Linked DNA regions of Homo sapiens. Each later gene encodes a partner of the first gene's protein in a complex. Each region holds a gene or a part of one and is shown in the gene's direction. Other genes may lie near its edges. The genes, in order: RAD18, MAGEA4 and UBE2B.

Region 1 (7,181 bases):
GAGCGTTAAGTCGACAGTGAGGGAAGAAGATATAAGGCATTAAGAAAGAGTGATTATGGCCAGGCGCGGTGGCTCACGCCTGTAATCCCAGCACTTTGGAAGGCTGAGGCTGGGAGTTCACGAGGTCAGGAGTTCAAGACCAGCCTAACCAATATGGTGAAACCCCGTCTCTACTAAAAATACACAAGAATTAGTTGGGCATGGTGGCACACGCCTGTTGTCCCAGTAGGGAGGCTGAAGCAGGATAATCGCTTGAACCCAGGAGACAGAGGTTGCAGTGAGCTGAGATTACACCACTGCACTCCAGCATGGGCGACACAGTTAGACTCCGTCTCAAAAAAAAAAAAAAAAAAAGAAGAAAGAGTAATTGAGAGGGAAGAAGAGAGACCACCTGGATCAAGCCATACCTGAATACCTACCTCAGGTCTTTTCAGTTACATGAGCTAACACACTGCCTTTCTTGCTTAGGCCATTTTGAGTTAGCTTTCTAATTCAGCACTTTGAACCAAAAAGTCCTAATACAGTTCCCTCCCTTAAAAGTTCTTCCTGTCTGATCTCAAAGCTCTTCCCATCTGCAGACCTTGACTTGGACTGGGCATTCCTCTGTCTAGTGTACTTGTCACCTCTGCTTGGGCATATAGTAGGTGCTCAGCAAACACTTGTTTGAAGGATCAATAGGAGGGGTTGGGACTCCTCCTAAGAAGAGGCTTTGGTGACAGACAGGTAGCTGGCCTCAGTGAGAAGCTCCCAGAGGTGATGGTGGTCTGACAGGCAGGTGGACGGGGTAATGGGCACAGTCTGTAAGTGTAAACAAGACCTAGCTGTCCCAGGGCTGGGAGGGAGAGAATAAGGCAGGGTCCATGTCTGGGAGGAGTCAAGATAGGGGCCTGGTCACAAGGACACAGCAGGGCCTGCTTCCTAGAACTGGGGTCCACAGTAAGTGTGAGGTCCACAGCACTTTTACCTCACCCGGACTGTGCCACCAAGGTTCAGTCCCTGTCACCTTCTTCTACTGTACACTTTCCACTTTGATCCCTTCTTCACCCAGCAGCTAGAATGACCTTTGGAAAATGTAAATTACACCCCTGCCTAAAGCCTCTAAGGACTTCCCCCCTGTGCTTATAGCAACATAATATTAATGACAGCTGACACTCACACAGGGCTTAGTAGTTGCCAGGCACCCTTCTAGGCATTAAACCTAGAATAACTCCTTTAATTATCCCTACAAGGCAAATACTAATATTATCCCCATTTTGCAGATGAGAAAATTGAGGCACAGAGAGGTCAACAACTTACCCAAGTTAACATGGATTAAAATCTGAACTTTTTACTAAGGCATGGAACTCTCCACTTCTGGGGTCTTTGGGTCTTTGCATGGCTGCCTCTCTCTATCAGTTGGGTCTCTGCCCATATATCACTTCCTCAGAGGGAGCCTCCCAGATCATACAATTTACAGTGTCCCCTCCTCTGTCCATTTTATCACCCTTTTTTATTGTTTTTACATCAGTTACTGTTTTATGCAATTATCTTACTCATTTTTTTACAAACTCTCTTTTTTTTTATCCTGGCTCCATGCTCACCCCCAGGCTGCCAGCTCCTGGAGAACAGAGGCCATATCTGTCTTACTCACCTCTGTATTCTAGCACCTGGTACAAGTGGAGAGTGGCTCAATAAACATTTGTTAAAATGAATGGAGGAAGGGAGAGATGGAGGCAGGGAGGAAGGAAGAAAAAAAATAAGGAAGGAAGGAAGGAAAGAAGGAACGAAGGAAGGGAGGAAGAAAGGAAGGAAGGAAAGGGAGGGAGGGAGCTCCTTTAATATCCCCTCTCCCATAACTAGAATGAGGAAGATGGGGCCTAGAGGAAGAGAGAGTGCTGGGCAGAGAGGAACAGGATGAAGAGAACCTGGAAAGGAGCTCAGGGGCCACAGGACATCCCCAGGTTAATCCAGGGCAGGCCCCACACTCAGTTGGGAGAATGCTTCTCTAATTAGGGTTGTCAGATTTGGCAAATAAAAATACAGGATGCCCAGTTAAATATTTGAATTTCTGGTTAAACAACAAATAATTGGTTAATAGGTTGTGTGCAATATTTGGGGCAGGTTTACACTAAAATGTTGTGTGCGGTTCATCTGAAATTCAGATTTACTGGGCAACTTGTATTTTATCTGGCCATCCTATTCTGGCTTCTCGCTGTGTGCTATGTGCCACAGAAGATTCCACTAAACACTAGCCTGCTTTTATTTTACATGGAACATTTTGTTTTTAGTCCTGAATAAGGAAGTACAATCTCTTTATTGATCTAACAGAAGGAGAAAGTCCATACAAACAGCAGCTTGTTAAGAGGAGAATGGCTCCCAGGGTTAGATAAACACCCAAGACAAACGCCTTTTCCTGAGCTCAAAGTGCGCTTGTTCTTGAACTTTCCTTCCTGGGCCTAGAGGTGGGCTTGATGGGATCTATCACCCTGGTGCTGCTGAAGATGGCAGGAAGAGAAATGCTCAGCCTGGGAGGAAAAGATTTATGGGAATGTGGGCTTAGTCGGTGATTCATCCATTCATTCAGCCTCACCCACCAGCTATTGGCAGACACTCAGAGATGAATGGCACCGCATCCTGTCCTGGAGGCTCTCCATAGATAGGGAAATGTATTTTGGCCCCAGGACTAACAAGTACTGCCTCCTTCCAAATCTGTCTCCATGGTTGAATGCAAAAAGTACATTCCTGTCCCTGTCTTTTCTCTCTCTCCCTTTCTCCTTACCCATTCTTTCTCTTTTTTCTCATCTCCTCTCTCTTCCTCTCTCACCTTCCCAGCCATTTGTCACCTTAAACCTAATTACCTTGTCCAACTAGTAGTGTGAAAAAAACAATTACTGGTTCACTCAGGCCACGGACCTGGTCTTAAATGCTTTTCCTTTGTCTCTCCAAGACCCCACTTCCTCCACATCCAGAACTATCCGACATTTTCCAGCTCAGCCTGGCATTCATTTGCGTTCATTTGCATGCCGTTCTATGATTGGCTGATACAAAGTGGGGGGCGGGGGTGGACACCGTAAACCTCCATTCCTCATGCATTTAATATAACATGTATGAAAAAAAGTATCTATATTTATATCTCGTTTAAGAAAAAAATTGTTCAATGATACTTGTTAAAGCACAATAAGGAAGACTTAATCAGGACAATTCAAGTAGGTATAGAGACCACTGGAACTGTGTCTTGCAATTGGTGAAAACTGGGCTCAACTCTGAATACAACATGGGCAAATGGAAATTTATAGCCAGGAAGCAGGGTGGGGAGCAGTGCATGAAAAATTACTAAGAGGAAACATCAGAGGTAACAGTAGATTCTTGCTGAAGAGGCCAGGGTGATCAGACATCAACTGGGGGATGGTGGAGGATGAGGAACACATCAGATATCAAGAGTGATCACATATCAAAGGTGGGGATTCTTGGTAACTTGATTTAGCAGGGTTTTTTGCTAAAACTGGATTTTTACAGGAAGTACACAGATTGGCCTAGGAGAAGGTTCAGGAGCCTGACTAAAGTTTGCTCAAGCAAAGAATCTTCGTCAATCTGCATAGGAAATATCTAGAAGGCTATATGCCAAAGTTAATGGTGCTTCTCTCCGAAGAAAAAGAAAAACCGTGCATTAAAATTTTAATATGAATAAAAGCAACAGCTCCCATTTAAAGCCCAGAGGTCCTGTTTGGAATCTGACTCGAAACTCTATCCACTTTTTCGGGCGTAGGCTTCTCTTGTGTAAACTGACAATGATAACATCTACCTCCCAGTGTTGTGATACGGGAGACATAAAGTAATGGATATAAAAACTTCTGTTCAGAGCAAGGACGGATAGTCACTGCGATTAGGGTGGGCGACCCGGAGGGGGGTCATGAGCCTGGACCTTGACAGATCTGGTGAGGTCTGGATTTGGTTTGATTCCTGGCTATCTTTTCTTAATATTCAACTGGCTCTACGCTTTTTAACCATTCACTTTCTTCAAGGTAAGTGCGGCAGAAGCCTGGCGCATGCGCAGTACAAGCCCTTAAGCGGCGCCCCGCCCACATACTACTACAACTTCCGGCAGGCTCCGCGCCCGCCTCTGGCGCGTCGCGGGCTGCTGACGTAATGCGGTAGCGCGGGGAATTTCGAGTGGTGTTGGAGCGCCGGAGGCTAGTGGGTGGCTGACCCCCAGCATCCTCGGGAGCGACCATGGACTCCCTGGCCGAGTCTCGGTGGCCTCCGGGCCTGGCAGTCATGAAGGTGAGTGCTTCGGGGAGTTTGGGAGCTCCCGGGTGTCTGCGGGGGGAGGTCCCTCCCTTTGAGGAGGATGTCCTCGCCTTAAGGAGAAAGGATGAGGCGCGAGCGTCGCACTGGGCCCGGGTATCCGGCTCTGCCCTGCCACTAGCCGACCGCGTGGCTCTGGGTCTCAGTTTACTCCTCTGATAAGTGACAAGGACAAGCCTGGTGAGCTGAGGTTGGCAGTCTTATGGCACCAGCTATTCTGCGATCCAATCCCAACAATAACATGGAGAAAAACAGTTATTCCAAACAATGACATCGACAGCTGTTCTTTACTGAAAGCTTACTTTGTGTCAAGCACTAAACAGTGACACCGGACATGATTTTGGGTGGACACTTTATCAGATAACATGTATGTAATCACGTAGCCAAGCAGGTAGTCTCCTTTACAGGCTCTTTCATTTCTTCTGATTATTCTCAATAAACGTAGTGCTCGTTTGTTCTGACATACTGCCCCAACTCCTCTCTAACACACCTTCACTCTTCTCTAACAATTGCTCATGTCTCTTAAACAGAGATCAGGACTCAGGCTCAGCGCTGATCTTGCATTGCGTCTGATTATTTCACTTAAATAACATTTATTTTTGTGGCCACTTTCTGTTTTGGCAAGGCATACCAGTTTCCATTTACAGTAGTGGTGGGCCCTGGATTTGCTCAAGAGCAGATGCACTTTGCTGTGCTGGATAAAGATCAGTTGCTTGGTGTTTCTTCTTGCTCTGTGATTATTTCCGTTTCTCACAGTGGCTAAGATAGCCTTCTTCTCCCTCAGTTTTGTAGACTTGGGGATTATAATACCTGTCCCACTGACTCATAAATTTGACTTTAGAATTAAGTGAAGGCTAAAGTAAGTAGAAGGCCTTGTTCTTCCTGCTGTCATCAGTGACGTCTAGAGTGCTTGGGGACTTGAGATATCTGCATGATGAGAAGCTGACATTGTGAAATGATCCAGGAAAGCTGTAGTTTTGGAGTTGTGGGCTTGGCACCAGGATGCAGTGGAGAAGAGCACAGATTTGAGTTCCAGTGGTCCTGGGTGAAATCTCCTGTCTGCCTCTTGACTGTATGACCTTCGGTTAGTAACTTAACCTCTCTGAGCCTGAATTTCTTCAACTATAAATTAGAGACAAAAATAACAGTTCATAGGATTGATTAAATAAATTAGTTGATGTATGTGGGCACAGATTCTGCTGTGTATTCACTGTGCTTACTGCAGTGCCTGACACCAAGTGGGTGCTCAAATATTATTTGCTGCTTGATTGAAAGTATCTGGAATGTAGTAAGCATTCAATGAATATATTTTATTATTATTAGCACTGTGTTAAGTGCTTCTTTCCCCTTTTAATTTGTTGTCATGAAGCTTGACTTGGATAAGGAAAGTAAAAGAGCTCTGTAACCTGTAAAGCTCCTGCTTTGTAGATTTAAGCACACTTTACATATTCCCACAATTTCAGTGTTCTTTAGAGGCGGGTTCCATGTCTTCTCTGACTTTGGTATCTCACCACAGCACTGAATGTAGAGTTTGGCACCACAGAGCGTTCAGTGAGTGTTCAACCAGAGAGTTGATTGAGCCCGTATTTTTTTGCTCACATTGGAATCATGGAATCTTAAGGTTAGAAAACCAGCCCCTTTCAGTATTTTAATCTCCTTTATAACACATCTGCCAATTTCTCACCTAATTTTTGCTTGAACTCTTCCAGGCACAAAGAACTATCAGATCCCAGAAGCAGATCTGACTGAAGTTACTTCTTTTATTGAATAGAAGTCTGACTCAGAATCCATGGTTGCTAACTTAGGATTCACAGAAAGACTTTGGAGTCTCAAGTTATTTGTAAAATTTTTGCATGTATGTTTTTCTGAGCAGAGAGTCCATAGTTGTCATCCATTTTTCAAAGGGATCTGTAACCCCAAAAACTTAAGAGTATTTTTGTAATTATTACGTTTTTCCACCCATTTTCTACTTCTCCCTTTCACTTTCTCTCTCTCTAAACTAAAGAAATTTTGGGGAGTCTGCTGACCACTCTCTATTCAGGCATCATTTTTTGTTTAGTTGGTTGAGGCGCATGTGATATGCATGTTACTGTCTTGGAGTGACATGACAAGAAATTTGAACCAGAAATGGCTCATCTGATGTAGTGTCAACTTCCACAATTGTGCTCTGCAGATCTTTCAGAATCATTCCTCCACCAGAAGAGGATGGCATAGATAAGAAAGTGTGATATAATAGACTGGTTCTGGCTTCTGGGCCTGCCTCTGCTCTTAATTGATCTTGAACATAACCCTTTAGATTTTTGTGTCTGTGACAGCTTACCATCCACAATAATGGAAGATTTTGGCATTTTATTATTTCCCTGGTTTTACTTTAACAAAAATTTACTGTTTTTGGCATATTGTAAATGTAATATGTGTACACGGTAGAAAAAAATTAAAATTCAGAATAAGATAAAGGAGAAAAATAAAACCATCCATAATTCTACCACCCAGAGAACCAGTGTTTAACATTTTACCTTATTTTCCTTTGGTTTTTGTGCATTTAAAATTTGGGATCACTGTGGAGTCAACTTCTTGGGTTTGATCCAGCCAACTTAGGAACTCTGTAGACTTTATTTTTAAAATTGGGATACTGATGCTGTGGACTTCATAAGATTGCTATGAAGATTAAACTACAGAGTTGTTATTATTATGTATTATTGGCATAGGTTTGTTTTCTGATTTTTATTTTCCTAGGGCATTAATTATTCTTTGAAAGCATGTTTTTTAATGGCTGCATAATATTTCATCATATGGACCATTAGCGACATTAGTCCTTTTTTGTTTACATTTTTAAAATTCAGGTAATAGGTTCACATGGTTCAAAATACACATAAAATAAAAAGTAAAAGTCTCCT
Region 2 (7,104 bases), on another chromosome or scaffold:
GCCAGGCTCTGCCGGGCATCAATCTCAGGACCCTAAGAGAGGGCTAAGCGTACCCCACCCCTATTCCCATCCCCCACCACGTCCCCTTTCCCATTACCATTTGCACTCCCAAACCATCCACGCCCCATCCCCCACCAGCACTCCTCTCCTCTTCAACCCCCCACCTCTCTCATATCGCCATCTCCCACCCCAACAACCCGGGCCCTTGTACCAACCTCACCCCTCCCACCCCCATCCACACTGAATCACGTTCCGCTTCCGCTTTCAACCCACCCCCAAAAACCCGCCCCCTCCATCGACCTCACCCCTCCCACCCCCATCCACGCTGAATCTGATTTCCGCTTCCTCTTTCAACCCAAGAAAGCCCCAGGGGCCCGGATGTGATGCCACTGACTTGCGCATTGGGGGTTAGAGAGAAGCGAGCTGCTCTGTCTGACCAGCAGCTTGGGATTGGCGGAGGGAAGCGGGCCAGGCCCTGTGAGGAGTCAAGGTGAGACGCTGAGGGAGGACTCAGGAGGCCCCCACCCCAGATAGACGACCCCAAATAATCCCGCACCACTCCTGCTACCAGCCGTGGGCCACCCGTGGGCGGACTTCTGAGTCTGGGGCGCCCTCCACCCCACTGCGTCTGAAGTCGCATGGGACTCTGGAGTCCGAGCTTGGGGTGGTTAGTGTAAGACTAGTGAGGGCAGGCTCTACGAGGCATCAACCTCAGGACCCTAAGAGAGGGCCAAGCGTACCCCACCCCTATTTCTATCCCCCACCGCCTCCCCTTTCCCATTACTATTTGCACTCCCAAACCCATCCGCGCCCCTATCCCCCACCAGCACTCCTATCCTCAACCCCGCACCTCTCTCACACCGCCATCTCCCACCCCAAAAACTGGGGCCCCTCCACCAACCTCACCCCTCCCACCCCCATGGATGCTGAATTGGGTTGCGCTTCCGCTTTCAACCCACCCCCAAAAACCCGCCCCCTCCACCGACCTCACCCCTCCCACCCCCTTCCACGCTGAATCGGGTTTCCGCTTCCGCTTTCAACCCAAGAAAGTCCCAGGTGCCCGGATGTGATGCCACTGACTTGCGCATTGGGGGTTAGAGAGAAGCGAGCTGCTCTGACCAGCCGCTTGGGATTGGCGGAGGGAAGCGGGCCAGGCCCTGTGAGGAGTCAAGGTGAGATGCTGAGGGAGGACTCAGGAGGCCCCCACCCCAGATAGACGACCCCAAATAATCCCGCACCACTCCTGCTACCAGCCGTGGGCCACCTGTGGGCGGACTTCTGAGTCTGGGGCGCCCACCACCCCACTGCCTCTGAAGTCGCAGAGGACTCTGGAGTCAGAGCTTAGGGTGTTTAGTGTAAGACTAGTGAGGCCAGGCTCTGCCAGGCATCAATCTCAGGACCGTAAGAGAGGGCTAAGCGTACCCCACCCCTATTCCCATCCCCCATCACGTCCCCTTTCCCATTACCATTTGCACTCCTAAACCCATCCGCGCCCCCATCCCCCACCAGCACTCCTCCTCGACCCCCCACCTCTGTCATACCGCCATCTGCCACCCCAAAAACCGGGGCCCCTCCACCAACCTCACCCCTCCCACCCCCATCCACGCTGAATCGGGTTCCGCTTCCGCTTTCAACCCACTCCCAAAAACCCGCCCCCTCCACCGACCTCCCCCCCACCCCCATCCACGCTGAATCGTGTTTCCGCTTCCGCTTTCAACCCAAGAAAGCCTCAGGGGCCCGGATGTGATGCCACTGACTTGCGCATTGGGGGTTAGAGAGAAGCGAGCTGCTGTCTGACCAGCAGCTTGGGATTGGTGGAAGGAAGCAGGCCAGGCCCTGTGAGGAGTCAAGGTGAGACGCTGAGGAGGACTCAGGAGGCCACCACCCCAGATAGAAGACCCCAAATAATCCCGCACCACTCCTACCAGCCGTGGGCCACCTGTGGGCGGACTTCTGAGCTTGGGGCGCCCACCACCCCACTGCCTCTGAAGTCGCAGGGGACTCTGGAGTCAGAGCTTGGGGTGTTTAGTGTAAGACTAGTGAGGCCAGGCTCTGCCGGGCATCAATCTCAGGACCCTAAGAGAGGGCTAAGCGTACCCCACCCCTATTCCCATCCCCCACCACGTCCCCTTTCCCATTACCATTTGCACTCCTAAACCCATCCCCGCCCCCATCCCCCACCAGCACTCCTCCTCGACCCCCCACCTCTGTCATACCGCCATCTGCCACCCCAAAAACCGGGGCCCCTCCACCAACCTCACCCCTCCCACCCCCATCCACGCTGAATCGGGTTCCGCTTCCGCTTTCAACCCACTCCCAAAAACCCGCCCCCTCCACCGACCTCCCCCCCACCCCCATCCACGCTGAATCGTGTTTCCGCTTCCGCTTTCAACCCAAGAAAGCCTCAGGGGCCCGGATGTGATGCCACTGACTTGCGCATTGGGGGTTAGAGAGAAGCGAGCTGCTGTCTGACCAGCAGCTTGGGATTGGTGGAAGGAAGCAGGCCAGGCCCTGTGAGGAGTCAAGGTGAGACGCTGAGGAGGACTCAGGAGGCCACCACCCCAGATAGACGACCCCAAATAATCCCGCACCACTCCTACCTGCCGTGGGCCACCTGTGGGCGGACTTCTGAGCTTGGGGCGCCCACCACCCCACTGCCTCTGAAGTCGCATGGGACTCTGGAGTCAGAGCTTGGGGTGTTTAGTGTAAGACTAGTGAGGCCAGGCTCTGCCGGGCATCAATCTCAGGACCCTAAGAGAGGGCTAAGCGTACCCCACCCCTATTCCCATCCCCCACCACGTCCCCTTTCCCATTACCATTTGCACTCCCAAACCATCCACGCCCCATCCCCCACCAGCACTCCTCTCCTCTTCAACCCCCCACCTCTCTCATACCGCCATCTCCCACCCCAACAACCCGGGCCCTTGTACCAACCTCACCCCTCCCACCCCCATCCACACTGAATCACGTTCCGCTTCCGCTTTCAACCCACCCCCAAAAACCCGCCCCCTCCACCGACCTCACCCTTCCCACCCCCATCCACGCTGAATCTGATTTCTGGTTTCTCTTTCAACCCAAGAAAGCCCCAGGGGCCCGGATGTGATGCCACTGACTTGCGCATTCGGGGTTAGAGAGAAGCGAGCTGCTCTGTGACCAGCCGCTTGGGATTGGTGGAGGGAAGCGGGCCAGGCCCTGTGAGGAGTCAAGGTGAGACGCTGAGGGAGGACTCAGGAGGCCCCCACCCCAGATAGACGACCCCAAATAATCCCGCACCACTCCTGCTACCAGCCGTGGGCCACCCGTGGGCTGACTTCTGAGTCTGGGGCGCCCTCCACCCCACTGCGTCTGAAGTCACATGGGACTCTGGAGTCCGAGCTTGGGGTGGTTAGTGTAAGACTAGTGAGGGCAGGCTCTACGAGGCATCAACCTCAGGACCCTAAGAGAGGGCTAAGCGTACCCCACCCCCATTCCCATCCCCCACCCCCTCCCCTTTCCCATTACTATTTGCACTCCCAAACCCATCCGCGCCCCCATCCCCCACCAGGCTCCTATCCTCCTCAACCCCGCACCTCTCTCACACCACCATCTCCCACCCCAAAACCCGGGCCCCTCCACCAACCTCACCTCTCCCACCCCCATCCACACTGAATCAGGTTCTGCTTCCGCTTTCAACCCACCCCCAAAACGCGCCCCCTCCACCGACCTCACTCCTCCCACCCCCATCCACGCTGAATCGGGTTCTGCTTCCGCTTTCAACCCAAGAAAGCCGCAGGTGCCGGAATGTGATGCCACTGACTTGCGCATTGGGGGTTAGAGAAAAGCGAGCTGCTCTGTCTGACCAGCAGCTTGGGACTGGTGGAGGGAAGCGGGCCAGGCCCTGTGAGGAGTCAAGGTGAGACGCTGAGGGAGGACTCAGGAGGCCCCCACCGCAGATAGACAATCCCAAATAATCCCGAACCACTCATGCTCCCAGCCCTGGGCCACTCGTGGGGGGACTTCTGAGTCTGGGGCGCCCACCACCCCACTGCCTCTGAAGTCGCACGGGACTCTGCAGTCAGAGCTTGGGGTGATCAGTGCAAGACTGGTGAGGGCAGGCTCTGCCAGGCATCAACCTCAGGACTGTAAGAGAGGGCCGAGGGTCCCCCACCCCCATTCCCATCCCCCTTCCCATTCCCATCCACACTCCCAACCCCATCTACACCCTATCCCCCACCAGCACCCCTATCCTCCCCAAACCCCCACTACCCTTATGTCCTCATCCCCCACCCCAACACCACTATCCCCATCCAGGTTGAATCGCATTCCGTTTCTGCTTTCAACCCAGGGAAGCTCCAGGTTCCTGGATGTGATGCCAGTGACTTGTGCATTGGGGGTTAGAGAGACGCTAGCTTCTCAGTCTGACAGGCAGCTTGGGATTGGCAGAGGGAAGCCGGTCCAGGCTCTGTGAGGTGGCATAGTGAGAAGCTGAGGGAGAAGTCGGGAGGCCCTCTCCACCCCAGATAGACGACCCCAAATAATCCGGCACCCCTCCTGCTTCCAGTCCTGGGCCACCCGTGGGCGGACTTCTGAGTCTGGGACGCCCACCACCCCACTGCCGCTGAAGCCGCAGGGGACTATGGAGTCAGAGCTTGGTGTGATCAGTGCAGGACTGGTGGGGGTAGGCTCTGCCAGGCATCAACGTCAGGACCCTAGGAGAGGGCTGAGTGTCCCCCACCCCCATTCCTATCCCCTACCCCTTTCCCATCTGCACTCCCTACCCCATCTGTACCCCCATTCCCCACCTGTGCCCCTATCCTCCCCAACCCCCCAACCAGCCTCATACCCCCCTCCCCCACCCCTACCTTCATCCCCATCAGCGCAGCATCCGGTTCCACCCCTGCTTTCAATCCAGGCAAGCCCTGGGTGGCCGGATGTGATGCCACTGACTTGTGAATTGAGGGTTAGAGAGAAGTGAGTTTCTGGGTCTGAAGGGTGGCTTGAGATCGGCAGAGGGAAGGTGGCCCAGGCTTTGTGAAGAGGCAAAGTGAGACTCTGAGGGAGGATTCAGGAAACCCCTATCCCTGATAGAGGGTCCCAGCCCTGGACTACCCCGCGGAGGCTGACTTCTCAGACTGGGCTGCTCCCCACCTCCGCCCCCTTCGCAACGCGTTTGTTTAAGCCACAGGGGACTCTGGAGTCAGAGGTTGGTGTGATCAGGGAAGGGCTGGTTAGGAGAGGGCATGGCCCAGGCCCTGCCAGGAATCAAAGTCAGAAACCTGAGAGGGAACTGAGGTCCCCCAAGATCCTAGTCTAACCCCCACTCCCACAAATCCGCTGCCATTTCGCTGCTCCATTTCCCATTCCTTGCCCTCCACCCTCACCAGGCAGAATCCAGTTCCCCTTCTGCTATCAATCCAGGGAAACCCCAGGCTTGGTGCTGGGATGTTTTTTGGGGGTCAGAGAATCAAGGGCATAGTCCTGAGGGGCCAGTTGAGATCGGCTGAGGGGAGCGGGCCCAAGCTCTGTGGCGAGGCAAGGTGAGACTCTGAGGAAGGACTGAGGAGGCCCCCACCCAAGATAGAGGAACCCAAATAATCCAGCGCAGCTCCTGCTGCCAGTCCTGGACCACCCGGGGGAAGACTTCTCAGGCTAGGCCATCCCAGCTCCCACTGCCACTAAAGCTACAGGGGACTCTAGAGTCAAGAGCTTGGTGTGCCCAAGGCAGGGCCCAGGCTCTGCCTGGCATCGGGGTCAGGACCTTGAGAGGGAACTGAGGGCGCTACACCCCCACCCCATCCGCATTCCAACATGCCCAGCCCCATCCCCAACTCCGTTTTGCAGAATCCATTTTTTCCCCTGCAGTCAACCCCGGGAAGACCTGGGAATGGTCAGGCACTCGGATCTTGACATCCACATCGAGGGCTGAAGGAGGGAGAGGGTTTGGTATCATGAGCAGAGCCTCAGGGTAGCAGAGGGAGGACCCTGGCCCTCCTGGGAGATGAGGAAGGCCTCAGGAGACCCAGCACCCCAAGGCAGGGAGCCCACCCCACCCCGTCTGAGAATGAGGTGCCTCCTCTTTTAGCCTCAGGAATCCAAGGGATGGCAACTCAGGTCAGCAGAGGGGTGGGTTCCAAGCCCTTCCAGGATCAAGGAAAGGAAGACGAGGGAGGATTCAGGGGGCCTTGCATTCCAGATCAGTGGAGACCTGGGCCCTGGGAGGTCCTGGGCAAGGTAGCCACCTGTAGCTCATACTTCCTGCATCTTCGAGGTCACAGAGAGGAGAGGGCTATGGTCTGAGGGGTGGTACTTCAGGTCCGCAGAGGGAGGAGTCCCAGGATCTACAGGACCCAAGGTGTGCCACACTTCACGAGGAATGGGGATACCTGTGGCTCAGAAAGACGGGACCCCACAGAGTCTGGCTGTCCCCTGTTCTTAGCTCAGGGGGGACCAGAGGAGGGATGGCCCTATGTGCCAATTTCACTTGTTCCACAGGCAGGAAGTTGGGGAACCTTCAGGGAGATGAGGTTTTGGAGTAAAGGGGCAATGTTTGCTCATCTCAGGGGGTTGGGGGTTGAGGAAGGGCAGGCCCTGTCAGGAGCAAACATGAGTACCCCACAGGAGGCCATCAGAACCCTCACCCCAGAACCAAAGGGGTCAGCCCTGGGCACCCCACACAGGGGTGACAGGATGTGGCTCCTTCTCATTTCTGATTCCAGATCTCAGTGAGGTGAGGACCTTGTTCTCAGAGGGTGACTCAGGTCACCACAGGGACCCCCATCTGGTCTACAGACACAGTGGTCCCAGGATCTGCCAAGAGTCCTGGTGAGGAATGTGAGGGAGGATTGAGGGTACCACAGGGCCAGAACGCAGATGATGACCCCACAGAAATCAGCCCTGCTCCTGTTGTCACCCCAGAGAGCATGGGCTTGGCTTTCTGCTGAGGTCCCTCTCTTATCCTGGGATCACTGGTGTCACGGAGTGGGAGGCCTTGGTCTGAGGGGGCTGCACCCAGGTCAGTAGAGGGAGGGTCCCAGGCTCTGCCAGGAGTTGAGGTGAGGACCAAGCAGGCTCCGCATCCAGGACACATGGGTTCCAATGAATTTCGACATCTTTTGCTGTCGTTCT
Region 3 (7,302 bases), on another chromosome or scaffold:
TTTTTTTTTTTTTTTTTTTTTTGAGATAGTCTAGCTCTGTCGCCCAGGCTGGACTGCAGTGTCGCTGATCTTGGCTCACTGCAACCTCCTCCTTCCAGGTTTAAGTGATTTTCCTGCCTCAGCCTCCCGAGTAGCTGGGATTACAGGCGTGTGCCACCACGCCCGGATAATTTTGTATTTTTAGTAGAGACGGGGTTTCTACCATGTTGGCCAGGCTGGTCTCGAACTCCCAACATCAGGTGATCCGCCTGCCTCGGCCTCCCAAAGTGCTGGGATTACAGGCGTAAGCCACCGCCCCCGGTCAAGATGGTTCTTAAATCAAAAACTTTTCTTGAACACTTGCCATATGCCTTTTAATTTTTTCCAACTGCTAGTAATCTTTTTTAAAGAAAAAAAACCTCCCTCACCACATGTCAAACTCTAGGAAAGCAAGTAATTCGAAGAGTTCCACCATATACGAAATGATGTACAAGAGCACGGAAATAAAGAGGCCAGTGTCTAACTGCTTAAGTAGACATAGAGTTCAACTGGAATGACAGTCCCTAATGAATAACCACCATATCACTAGACCAAGTGCCTAGGGAGTGCTTTCTTTATTGAATAGGGCTTTCTTTGCTTTCTTCTATAAAATGAGTTAAATGTAAAAAAGCGAAATCTCGCTATGCTTCCGCTAAATAAGAGGAAAGGCATTATTTAATAAATCTAGTCTGGTGGGTCCCACCCAGCATGCATATTTAAATCACACCTGGAGAGCTTTTAGAAAGCATCCCAACCCCCACCTCCACACCCCTGCCCCAATGCCAGAGCACCTGATTTAATTGGGATAGCGTAAATAAATTAGTATTTTTGAAGCTTCTCAAGTTTTTTCTATGCTGCTAGGGTTTATATTGAGAGAAAGGAGAAGTGGTCATCGTTTTCATTGATCACCTAAAATATTCAGAATTGTCTTTTCTTTGAAGGTTATTCAGACGGGCGCAGTGGCTAACGCCTGTAATCCCAGCACTTTGGGAGGCCCAGGCGGGCGGATCACGAGGTCAGGAGATCGAGACCATCCTGGCTAACACGGTGAAACCCCATTTCTACTAAAAAATAGAAAAAATTAGCTGGGCGTGGTGGCGGGCGCCTGTAGTCCCAGCTACTCGGGAGGCGGAGGCAGGAGAATGGCGTGAATCCGGGAGGCGGAGCTTGCAGTGAGCGGAGATCGCACCACTACATTCCAGCCTGGGTGGCAGAGCGAGACTCCATCTCAAAAAAAAAAAAAAAAAAAAAAAGAAAGTTATTCAACCACAATATAAAATACCTTCTATAAATAAGAATGTCATAGTAAATCTTATAGTGGGCTCAAACTTGGTGTAAGCATATTATTTGTTGTGGGCTAAATATTTGCAAGGAGGCTGCGCACAGTGGCTCACACCTGTAATCCCAGGGAGGCCAAGGTGGGCAGATCACTTGAGCCCAGGAGTTCCAGACCAGCCTGGGCAAGAGGGCAAAACTCCATCTCTACAAAAAATTAGCCGGGCATGGTGGTGCACACCTGTGGTCCCAGCTACTTGGGCGTCTGAAGGAGAATTACTGGAGCCCAGAAGGTCAAGGCTGCAGTGAGCCCTGTTCACACCACTGCACTCCAACCTGGGTGACAGAGCAAAACTCTGTCTCAAAAAATAAAAAAATTTGCCCAGGACAAAGATGAACCAAACTGAGTCCCTGCCCTCAATGAACTCATAATCCAGAGCTACAGAACTGATAACAGCATACAGTTAATAGCTTTAAAATTATTCCTTCTACAAGTAGGTTATGGCAGGCCTGGTTAACAAGGACAGCCAGTGATTCTTGCTAATACACAGCTGTAAGACTTTATGATGCACATTCACTGAATCAGTTAAAAGTGTTATATCATTTTGGAAAATAATAAACTGTTTCCAAAACAATTATAAATCCCTGTAGTCTCTGAATTCCTTACCTCTATTGCCTCCAGTTCCCATCTTCAGGACTTCGTTGGTGGGTCAGGAGGACTCTGAGCACTTTTGTATCCATTCGTCAGCTCAACAGGGAAAGAGGGGGTAGGAGGAGGACCTCAGCATTGCCCTAATCTTGCCCATAGTTCCATGGAACCAGAAAGGGTTAACTTTTCCCACTTTCCTTGTACCTCCCTTTCTTCAAACCCTGAATTCTGTCTCTGCTTTCAGTGACTGCCTTGACTGATAAATTACAAGGGTTTTTTTGGTTGTTGCGGGATTTTTTTGAGGCAGGGTCTCAGTGGCATGATGATGGCTCACTGCAGCTTCAACTTCCTCGTCTCAAGCGATTCTTCTGCCTCAGCCTCCTGAGTTGCTGGGACTATTGGTGTGCGCCACCATGCCTGGCTAATTTTACTTTTTGTAGAGACAGGATCTCCTATGTTGCCCAGGCTGGTCTTCAACTCCTGGCCTCCCAAAGTATTAGGATTACAGGCATGAGCTAATGCCCCAGCTCATGAGGGATATTTTTAAGATATAGTTTCTCTTTACCATTTTTCTCCATGTAACCCTACCTGTGTGTCTTCCTCCTTTGCTATTGGAAGGGTTAGGACTGCAATGGCAGAAAGGCAAAAAAATTAAGAATATTCAGCTTTTAACTTAAAAAACACATTGCGAATGTCTAACAGGACCTATCAAGAGTTAGGCCTGGCTAACCTGATCACCAAGGCAGTCACTGGAAGCAGAGAGGGAATTCAGGGTTTGAAGAAAGAGGTACAAGGAAAGTCAGAAAAGTTAACTCTGCTTCCATGGAATCAGGGGCAAGGCTGAGGCAATGTTAAGGTCCTCATTCCACCCTCCCTTTACCTGTTGAACTGAACAGTTCCCCAAATGGATACAAAAGTACTCAGAGTCCTTAGTATAACAAAGTCCTGAAGGTAGGAATTGGAAGCAATAGAGGGAAGGACGGTGACCACAGAAAATATTCAAGGTCTTTGGGAGGTCAACACCTCTGAACCCCCTGGTGGTGGGGGGCCCTTCTGGCCCATTTGCACCTTTCTTGCTAGTGTAGAAAACCTGAAGTTATCTCAGGCTAGATATATAACCCTCACTCATGTCTGCCGGAGCTCTCCCCCAGAATATGAATCATATTTGTAGGTTTCTTTGACAACCAACCACTCATTGATATGCTTGGAAGACTGCACCCCCACATTCCTTAAAAATACAATGGTACTCCCCCACCATAGGCAAGTCCCCGGACTCTGACACATATCTTCAATTGAAAGCAGACCCAGAAAGGAAAAACTGCATAATACACCATCCTTTAATATTTGCCCAGAATTTCCAATACTAGAAACCCCACTGCAAAGCAGAAAGACTATCTGGTAGCTTCAAGGAACCATTTCAGGAGATTGTTGTGTGGGCCTCAGTATTCAAGGCTGCCTTAGAAGATCGTGCGATCCTCTCACTCTTCTTGCCCCAAGTACCAGAGTTAATAAGCCACTGAACCAACCAGAGGGGAATTATTTTTGGTCCCGGTTTAAAGAAAACAAAACAAGCTGTTGATTCTGCCATGACCTCTTGGGTAATGTTGTCTCTATACCTGTGATAAACAGAAAACAACTAATAAAGGTTTATCCCGCCCTCACCCTCTTAAACCCGCTTCACAGACCTGGCTGAAACTCACATCCAGGCGAGGCGCTCACGTGACCCGTTCTAAACGCGTCATAGGGACACGTGGTTCTAGATACTTCTCCCCCTCCCACTCAGGGGTGGATTGTTGACAAGGCCGCGGGCAGTCACGTGATCTTACATCATCCCACCTCCTTTCCCTGAAATCTCTGGCCCGGATGCGTCCCTCTTTCTCCACCCCGCCGAGCCTAAACTAGTGACGGGGAGGGAGACGGGATAGTGTTTCTGTTTCGTGGTCTTTGAATCCACAACCTCTAGTCTGAACACAGAGAACACAAATTTGTCTATTACTTCAGGAAGCCCAGGGGGAACCGCGCCCCGCTGAAGGGCTCGGGGAAGGCGCGCTCCCGCGTCCCGCCCCCTCCTCCCCCAGCACTCACACTGTGGTAGCGGCGGAGGGCGGAGGGATCCGGAGGCGGCGGAGGGAGACGTCATTGCAGGGTTGTTTGTCAGTCTCGGCGGCGGCGGCGGCGGCGGCGGCGGCGGCGATCCACAGTGATTCGGCCGCCGCGCCGGGGGGTGGGGGGGCTGCGCGGGACTTTTTTTTTTTCAGACTGACCGCGGGGCAGCTGCGGAGCATGTCGACCCCGGCCCGGAGGAGGCTCATGCGGGATTTCAAGCGGTAAGGGCCTTCACCTTCGCCTAGATGACGGCCCCTCAAAGCTGCGGGGCTGCAGGGCGTGGATCCCAGACACCTTCCCCTTTGTGACCCTCAGAGGGCCGGCTGTGGGCCCAGCGGGACTGGCGGAAGCCGGGTCCTAGCCTCGGCCCTACTCCCATAAGCTTTGCCGCTCGTTCTGGCGCCCGAAGAAATTTTGATACTGCTTCCCCTCCCCACAAAAAGTAAAACGGTGTCGATCGACTGGTCTAGGGTTCCCTGCTGCCCATTTCGGCCAGCTGCCCGGCGTCTCGCCCAGGCGATCAGACATTATCCGCCCGCCCCTGCACCCTGCGGCGCCCCCTTCTTGTCCCCTCAAAGTGAGCTCCTGCGGGAGCTTGTTCCTCTCCGGCAGCACCAGTCAGCTTTGTTTCACGGCCCCGCCGTCTTCTCCGAGGAGCCGTGTTGGGGCGAACCCCTCTCCCGACTCCTGCCAATCCTTTCCATTTGTGCCCTGAGGGTGGGGTCCAGTGCGTGAGGCCCGGAGGTTAACCCATCCCCCGAAACCCGACTCTGTCCCCGCCCGCCTGAAAGGACCTTGGGAACTGACTTAGAGATCTGGGACCTTAGAGCTGGCCACCCCGGCTGCCAGTGCTTTCTGGAACTCAGCTCTGGCTGGTGAAGAAAGCCCCTATCTATAGCCTCCCGAGTCTGGAAAAATGCCTTCCCTTAGACTGGCGCTAATCTGATACTCCCTGGGCCTCCTTTGGTAAATAAAATAGGGTTTTGTTAGGAGGTATTGGGGTTGTGAGATAGAAAATGATTATTCCGTTGTTTACCTTTTATTGGATACTTAGAGACATAGAAAAAATAAGTGAGAAAACATCATTTTGATACTCTGCACATTTTTCTTAACATTTTTTCTGGGGACACCTGCCCTAATTGAACAAAATATCTAGCATAAAAACTTAGATTTGTCGCTCAGGAAGTCACCTCTCAGCTATTATAAAGCCTATGTGAGGCACTTGGATTTGGCCAACTTATTTAATTCATTCGTAGCTTCTCTTAGCCATTTAAAGGTAGGCGTCAAGCAGTGCAGTTCTTCTAAGGCTTCTGTTCGTGGTGGCCTAATTTGCTTGAGATTGACTAAAAACCATTTTTTTAATGTGGACTAGTTGCAAATTATGATGCCCCATGAAAAACAACTGCATATGTATTTGTGTGTGTATATAATGTAGCATTTTTAATTGAGGTTACAGTCTCTGAAAGGAGATGCCCTTTTTGGTGCAAAAGTCATCTTTCTAAAGCTTGAAATCAGCGTATTTGATTAGCACTCATGACAAATTCAGATAGTAAACTAGTTCATGTCATTGTCGCCCTGGCTCCTTACTGTAATGCTCTGCTTAATTCTGAGTTGAATGCATGGCACCTTTTGTAGTTTCCAGAGATCTGCAGGTTACAAGAATTTGACTATGACGAATGTTGGAAAGCCTTGTGTTGAGTCTCCTGATCTGAGAGGTGGATTTGGTGTTAGTGCAGAGCCTTTAAAATAGGGACTGGCAGAAAACCTACTAATTACTTTTTAAAGCCATTGCTGTTTGAAGCAAAAGGAATAGAGTAAATCTGCTGCCTAATACTAGTTTCCTAGTTAAATTTAATGTGTTTTCAGTCATTTTGTGTTTACACTGAGGTTTGCTTTTTTTTTTTTTCTTGTAGCCATTTTGCAGAAGTAGCCTGGTTAGGATACACAGTCTTTGCATGTTTAGAGCAGCAAAATCAATGGTTCTGTAAAAATATTACTTGCTTTTGAGGTTTTAAACTTTTTTTGGTATAAGAGGACAGTCTATATACATCAATTCTTTTTTTTTAAATATATTTTAATTATACTTTAAGTTCTAGGGTACATGTGCACAACGTGCAGGTTTGTTACATATGTATACACATGTGCCATGTTGGTGTGCTGCACCCATTAACTCGTCACTTGCATTAGGTATATCTCCTAATGGTATCCCTCCTTTCTCCTCCCGCCCCACAACAGGCCCCTGTGTGTGATGTTCCCTTTCCTGTGTCCAAGTGTTCTCATTGTTCAATTCCCACCTATGAGTGAGAACACGTGGTGTTTGGTTTTTTGTCCTTGCGGTAGTTTGCTGAGAATGATGGTTTCCAGCTTCATCCATGTCCCTACAAAGGACATGAACTCATCCTTTTTTATGGCTGCATAGTATTCCATGGTGTATATGTGCCACATTTTCTTAGGCTAGTCTATCATTGTTGGACATTTGGGTTGGTTCCAAGTCTTTGCTATTGTGAGTAGTGCCGCAATAAACATACGTGTGCATGTGTCTTTATAGCAGCATGATTTATATTCCTTTGGGTATATACCCAGTAATGGGATGGCTGGGTCAAATGGTATTTCTAGTTCTAGATCCCTGAGGAATCGCCATACTGTCTTCCACAATGGTTGAACTAGTTTACAGTCCCACCAACAGTGTAAAAGTGTTCCTATGCATCAATTCTTGAAGAGATAATATTGAAAGAGGGATGATTCTCAAGCCCTTTCAATTTTTAGATAATTTGGAGAGGTATTTAATAAGTATATATACCTGGTTAATATATTTAAGTCATATGGTTCATTTTAGTTCACAATAACAAGGAAATGGAGTTAGTCTGTGTCTCAAAATAGATGGTATAGTGTCTGTAGGTGTTTACGTGGCCTCCTTAGTGGCCTTAATGTTCAACTTTTTAAATTACCACGCTGGATTTCCAGGTTACAAGAGGACCCACCTGTGGGTGTCAGTGGCGCACCATCTGAAAACAACATCATGCAGTGGAATGCAGTTATATTTGGGTGAGTTGAAAGGTTTAACAAATAATAGGTGTGTGCTGAATCTTTAAGAAAAGTAAACATATAACAACTGTCTAGGAAAAGAAACTGAGGTGGAATGAGAGATCTTAAGGACTAAAACTGCAAGATAAATTAGAAAAAAAAAATATTTCAATTAGAGTTTTGGCCCAGCACAGTAGTAGCTCAACGCCTGGGAGGATCGCTGGAGCCCA

The links.
Region 2: the proteins of RAD18 (region 1) and MAGEA4 are in contact, whole or in part, in a crystal structure (PDB 9BD3), measured with the Homo sapiens proteins. Residues at the interface, in NP_064550.3 of Homo sapiens: Ser348, Phe350, Gln351, Leu353, Val354, Gln356, Ala357, Arg358, Lys359, Gly360, Tyr361, Lys362, Lys363, Ile364, Ala365; in NP_001011548.1 of Homo sapiens: Ser111, Val114, Asp115, Ala118, His119, Ser158, Lys160, Met161, Ile162, Ile204, Ile205, Gly208, Thr209, Met212, Glu224, Glu225, Val228, Met229, Gly230, His237, Val239, Tyr240, His290, Val291, Val294, Asn295, Arg297, Arg299.
Region 3: the proteins of RAD18 (region 1) and UBE2B are in contact, whole or in part, in a crystal structure (PDB 2YBF), measured with the Homo sapiens proteins. Residues at the interface, in NP_064550.3 of Homo sapiens: Tyr342, Arg343, Lys344, Lys345, His346, Lys347, Glu349, Phe350, Leu353, Val354, Gln356, Ala357, Arg358, Lys359, Gly360, Tyr361; in NP_003328.1 of Homo sapiens: Pro20 (codon at 7,026), Val22 (codon at 7,032), Gly23 (codon at 7,035), Val24 (codon at 7,038), Ser25 (codon at 7,041), Gly26 (codon at 7,044), Ala27 (codon at 7,047), Ser29 (codon at 7,053), Glu30 (codon at 7,056), Gln35 (codon at 7,071), Asn37 (codon at 7,077), Ala38 (codon at 7,080), Val39 (codon at 7,083), Phe41 (codon at 7,089), Gly42, Pro43, Glu44, Glu49, Asp50, Lys54, Leu55, Val56, Leu73, Ser74, Asp151, Ser152.

What each region holds. Positions count from the first base shown.
Region 1 is NC_000003.12:8,960,414-8,967,594, reverse strand, and holds the start of RAD18 (E3 ubiquitin-protein ligase RAD18), read left to right. Parts: upstream 1-4,122; 5' UTR 4,123-4,209; coding exon 4,210-4,260; intron 4,261-7,181. UniProt on the Homo sapiens protein: E3 ubiquitin-protein ligase involved in postreplication repair of UV-damaged DNA. Postreplication repair functions in gap-filling of a daughter strand on replication of damaged DNA.
Region 2 is NC_000023.11:151,915,831-151,922,934, forward strand, and holds part of MAGEA4 (melanoma-associated antigen 4), read left to right. Parts: intron 1-406; exon of another isoform or gene 407-490; intron 491-1,094; exon of another isoform or gene 1,095-1,172; intron 1,173-2,457; exon of another isoform or gene 2,458-2,526; intron 2,527-3,079; exon of another isoform or gene 3,080-3,207; intron 3,208-3,762; exon of another isoform or gene 3,763-3,892; intron 3,893-6,695; exon of another isoform or gene 6,696-6,801; intron 6,802-7,104. UniProt on the Homo sapiens protein: Regulates cell proliferation through the inhibition of cell cycle arrest at the G1 phase. Also negatively regulates p53-mediated apoptosis.
Region 3 is NC_000005.10:134,367,371-134,374,672, forward strand, and holds the start of UBE2B (ubiquitin-conjugating enzyme E2 B), read left to right. Parts: upstream 1-4,225; coding exon 4,226-4,269; intron 4,270-7,012; coding exon 7,013-7,093; intron 7,094-7,302. UniProt on the Homo sapiens protein: E2 ubiquitin-conjugating enzyme that accepts ubiquitin from the ubiquitin-activating enzyme E1 and transfers it to a E3 ubiquitin-protein ligase. In vitro catalyzes 'Lys-11'-, as well as 'Lys-48'- and 'Lys-63'-linked polyubiquitination.